2 separate regions of the Homo sapiens genome follow, and region 2 is linked to region 1. Evidence: fine-mapped expression QTL. Tissue or cell type: caudate. Region 1 holds a variant in brackets; the other region holds the start of a gene. All regions are shown on one strand. Distances are from middle to middle.

What was found. PIP is the estimated chance that this variant, and not a neighbour inherited with it, causes the effect.
Region 2: it holds the start of SLC39A12-AS1, and the variant in region 1 is fine-mapped to the expression of SLC39A12-AS1 in caudate (GTEx, PIP above 0.99). The same link has a PIP of 0.9 or more in amygdala, cerebral cortex, hypothalamus, nucleus accumbens and putamen.

Annotation. Positions count from the first base shown.
Region 1 is chr10:18,134,942-18,137,709 of GRCh38, forward strand. No RefSeq gene overlaps it. Among named protein-coding and RNA genes, the nearest start is that of CACNB2, 4.1 kb to the right of the region's middle. RefSeq lists an enhancer at 982-1,948. The variant A/G (reference allele first, on the strand shown) is at 1,548.
Region 2 is chr10:18,009,554-18,012,164 of GRCh38, forward strand. SLC39A12-AS1 (SLC39A12 antisense RNA 1) reads right to left here and starts at 1,009. Exons shown (of 5, transcript NR_038419.1): 1 at 976-1,009; 2 at 112-200. All of the region lies in intron 12 of SLC39A12 (solute carrier family 39 member 12), which reads left to right.

The sequences.
Region 1 (2,768 bases):
ACTCTTTCTTCCTAAGGCATACAATTGGACTGTGTTTCTCAGCCCGTCTTGCAGCTTTAGTCATGTGACAGAGTTCTAGCCAATAAAATATAAGTGGAAGAGATGTATACCACTTCCAAGTTTGGACAATACAAACTTGCATGCACCACCATCTACCATCACCTAAGGCACCAATGTCCTTTTTCCTCCTTGTAAGTAACCCCGGTGGGAGTAACATGGTGACGTGGGAGGTTGCATTGTGAAGATGGTAGCTAGTTACTCAAGCCTCGGTTCCTAAATGTCAGCATGATGCAGAGCTATTTCTAATGGGGAACTTCTACTCCAGTATACATTTCTTTCAAATCCATTGAATATTCAGACTGTATGTTATAGCAGTTTGACTTACCCTAATTAACATAGAGGAATAGTGATATCTACCTCACAGGCAAAGACAATGCATTTAAGTTCTTAATAGGAAGCCTGGCGCCTCATATGTAAACAAAAGTATCAGTTGTTATAACAAGGTTTAGATGAGAAATAAATCAGATAGATCATAAATGAATGTGCTTTATAAACTAAAAAGTGCTATATACTATTGAATATTCCAGAGTGCTCTCCTGGGTAGTTTTAGGAACTCATGGAATCTCATTTCTGTGAAGTCTTTTCTCTGGAAGTGAAATTAGGCTTTCTCTGAACACTTGTACATTTCAGTTTTAAACTTTTACTATCCATACAGATACATTCAATCCCATTATAATGGATTTGCTTGCATCTTTATATGCTTTTAAATAGCAGTCTGTAATTCAGGGCATAGGTTTACAAAAAGCAAACATGTAACTTCATGGAATGCATCATACCAAGTCAGGCCAGTGGCCAATACAGCTATATATCCTTATGAAAATGCTATTAATAGTGGTGGAAATTCAGGACTTTCAGTGAGGTGTAAAATGATTTACTGAGTAAAATGAGAAATCATACATGTGTATCTGTCCTAAAAAGCTCTTTCTTTAAGGTGTTAAATGTAGTCACAAATCTGCAAGCAGGAGAGGAAGAATAAAGCACTTGTAATCACTGTTTCTTCCACTTACAGAAAAAATAATCTTTTAAAACGTCTGGCTTCATTAGCCAGTGTCTCTTACCAGCCCCTGTTCCTATTTCAGAGCATTAGTAATTCCCAGAATATGTCTGTCCATTACAACAACTAATGAGCACAAGGAAGCTAACATACAGCTTGAATAAATTAGTCATCTGCATTTGAATGCGTCGATGGCACATCCATTATTGCTGGAGTCTCTTGCATCTGCTTAACTTTTAACATGAAAAGAATTAGGCTTTACTTACCAAATTTTTGCTTTCCTCTGTGGCTTTTAAATATTGCGCAAGTCAAAGAATCTTAAAAACAAGATCAACCGTGATTGAAGGCATCTATACATTTTCCAAGTCTTTTTATTCTGTTTATTCTGATTTTGCTCCCTTTTTCAGGAGTAACATTTTGTTACTCTGTGTTTGAAATCTTTTACAAGCCAGACAAGAGTCTGAATGGGTACATTGTATTGGATTAGTGTTCA[A/G]TGCATGCTAATTAAACTAGTTTGAGTTATAAAGGAAGAAGTAGTATAATGTTCTCATGGGAGTCAGGCTTAGGTAAATGTTGTCATTGTACGTTAAAACTGGCAAAGTTGTATGCTGTGTTTTAAGACGCAAGAAGTCATTCAACATTCATGCATTCATTTAGACAACAAATGTTTTCACGTTCTAACTAAGTGGCAGACACCATGCTGGGTGGTGCTGGGGATACTAAGATGAAAAAGACGCCATCACTGCCCTCAAGGAACCCTATCTAGTGGTAGGGAGAAACATAAAAAAACAGGGAGTTCATATTATGAATTATATGAAATGAATATATTGTATTACATTTGAACATTTAATTCAAACTTTACTTGCCCTCTGGTTATAAGCGTTATTAAAATTATTTTCAAGGTTTTGATTTTTTTGCGGTCTCTTTAAACATCTGATGAAAGATGAAATTCTACTTCCCAAATGGTCCTAATTGAAAGCGAATGCACAAATAAGCATGCTATAAGAAACTGGACAGACATCATGAGAAAACACTCAGTTTCACCAAACCTGGTGTTTTTTTTTAAATAATGTTTCTTCTTTTGTTTTCTCCTTCCTTCCTTCCTTCCTTCCTTCCTTCCTTCCTTCCTTCCTTCCTCCCTCCCTCCCTCCCTTCTTTCCTTCATTTATTAATTGGCTTTTAAGTGCTAACTAGCAAGACTGTAAGCCCCATGGAGCTGGTAACCTGGTCTTTGTTGGCTGTGCTCATCAGGTGGCACAAAATAGAAGCTTGATTCATACTTTATTGGATGACTATTGAAAGAACTCAGAGGGCAACTTGCCAGATTCTGAATGTGTCCTAGAGAATAAGTGTGGTTCCTGTCCACACAGAGTTTACAGTCTGAAATGGATTTAATGTTTTCCCTAAGATTTAAACACATGCTCAAGAAAACTTCACAGTTTGATTAAATGAGTAGGCCTAAAACAGTGATATTATCAACAGAGCATGGGGCAAAAGTAGACTATAAGTCGAAAACTTTAAACACAATTTCTTTTCCATTTTCACACACACATACATACAGGCATACATATAAAAGCATGGCTGATTGTTGCTGTTCAAAATGTTCCCATTTTAGAAATTATTACAAACCAATATTTAAGTGCTGCTGTTTAACATTCAGCAAAATTTAAATAAAAGTGGCATTTTAATTTTTTTAATTTTATTTTTCCATAAG
Region 2 (2,611 bases), 130 kb before region 1:
AGACTATCCCTTATGTTTCTTCAACCTTATTTTACTTATCTAATAACTTTGCAGGCAGGGGATTGGGGGGAGCAGGAACCTCAAGAATAAAAAGCAGTCAGAGCAATTTACTTATCTTCCCTCTTGTGAGAAGTGTCGCCCAGAAGTAATATCACAGCCAGACCTTTGCCTGGAGGACTTTCAATTTCCAGATAATTTTCCTTAAGTGAAAGGCAGGATAAAAGGTATTTTGAATATGAATTTAAGATCTTCTACCTTTAAAACATATCCAAAAATGCAAAAATCAAACCTGAGTATTCAATCTGGTCAATAAACAGGATTATCAATATAGTTCATCCTCTCTACACTTATTGTAGGTCAGTAAATGTAGCAGCTTCAAGAACATGAATTGGGTAAAAGCAAAAAAACATTAATTGAGTGACAAACATCCACCTTTCTAGCCAGGCTTCTCCTCTCTTCTTCATCATATAACTATAAAATTAAACTAAACTAGAATCCTAGACTTTTAGAATATTGATCCCATTCCCTCCTCCCCATTTTTCTTTCTTTTTCTTGTGATTTACTGAGTTTGAATGAGTCTTTCTTTATCAGAGAAATCTAGACTCCGAGGCAATTCAGTCAAAGATCTGCAATCACCAAGTCAGGTCTGGTAAATGAATCCTTTCTCCATCCAAAAGATGAGTAAGTCTTCCTTTCTTTGAAGTTTGGCAATACCTAAGTGTAATTTCTGTTAAACATCCACCCACAGGAAGAGATTTTGTTTGAAAAAGACATATGAAGTAACCTTGATATACGTATTTGTTTTCAACAAATATTGTAGTTAAAATCAATGAGTTCCATTGGCATCATTTTAAATATCCTTTGGCTGAGAAAGAAATAGCAAGCATTCAAAACTCAATTCAGGCAGCAAAATTAATGTAATTTAACATTCACAATTATTTCTTAACAAAAGCAAGAAGGGTGAATCATTCTTACCCACAAATTTGAAAGACTTCTATTCTCTTTCTGTAAAAATCAGTCAAACCCCACACTTAGAAATTTTCTACTGAGAAAATGAGTAATTAAGCCAACTTTGGTGAACGCTGAATTCTCTCTATAATTAAAAGAAACTGACCATCAGAAATGCTGGTATTTTTCTACTCCTCGTTCCTCTTTTCTTCTAACTAATTTCTCAGATCATACACACACATACACACAGATCTTCCAAAGCAGTTATTTTAAAAATGCAGTTGGCCCTAGAACAACATGGGTTTGAACTGCATGGGTTCACTTATACTCAGATTTTCTTCCACCTCTGCCACCTCTGAGACAGCAAGACCAACCGTTCCTCCTCCTCCTCCGTCCCTTCAATGTGAAGATGAGGATGAAGACCTATATGATTGTCCACTTCTACTTAACTAATAGTAAATGTATTTCTCCTCTTTATGATTTTATTTTCTTTTCATTTCGTTTCTCTTTTCTTCTTTCTTTTCTTTCCCAAAACAAAATAATACAAAGCCCAGGCGCCCCCTCCAGGTATTTCCTCCCTTCCTTCCTTCCTTCCTTTCTTTTTTTGAGACAGAGTCTCACTCTGTCGCTCAGGCTGGAGTGCAGTGGCGCGATCTCAACTTACTGCAGCCTCTGCCTCCCAGGTTCAAGCAATTATCCTGCCTCAGCCTCTGGAGTAGCTGGGATTGCAAACATGTGCCCCCATGCCCGCTTATTTTTATGCTTTTAGTAGAGATGGGGTTTCGCCATGTTGGCCAGGCTGGTCTGGAACTCCTGGCCTCAAGTGATCCACCTGCCTCAGCTTCCCAAAATGCTGGGATTACAGGCATGAGCCACTGCACTCATCCCCCTTATGACTTTCTTAATAACATTTTCTTTTCTCTAGCTTACTTTATTGTAAGAATACTGTATATAATACACAGAGCATATAAAATATGTGTTAATTGTGTTATTGGTTAGGCTTCTGGCCAGCAGTAGGCTATAAGTCGTTAAGTTTTGGGAGAGTCAAAAGTTATACATGAATTTTCAACTGTGCAGGGATCAGCATCCTAACCCCCACATTGTTCAACTGAACTAAAGCTGGCTGACATCTGTCTTTGCTGAGCTTTACGACTAAGAATTTGTCTAACTGAATCACTTCCCCTAAGGAAAAAAAGGAGAAGAGAATTGTTAAATACAAGTTTAAAGCAGGTAACATCTTAGTCTCTCCTAATTGCGTGTGACAGTGATGTGCTCTTTATCTTATAACTCACAGTTTTCAAAAAAATGTAATTTATCTTCTGCAAACTGCTTCATGAATTGCCTTGAGAAGATCCCACTGGGAAGTGATAGACATATAAGATTCTGTATTTGAATTATTCAGCAAATAAAATTTTTAAAGCTGAAGATTTTAAAACAACCTTGAGAATAGCCTCCGGGTTGGCTATCCCATATAAGTTGAGAGCTGTGGTCTTTGCTTTCTTGAATAACAAGGAAGGTTAAAACAGCTATGTTAAGTTGTTTATTGAACATAAATACTAGTTGAAAAAGACCTAAATTCAAAACAGTGGGAACAAACCGCCTGATTTCAGGAGATTCTTGAGTCAACAGAGTGTTGAGGATTCTACTCTTACTAATCAAATAT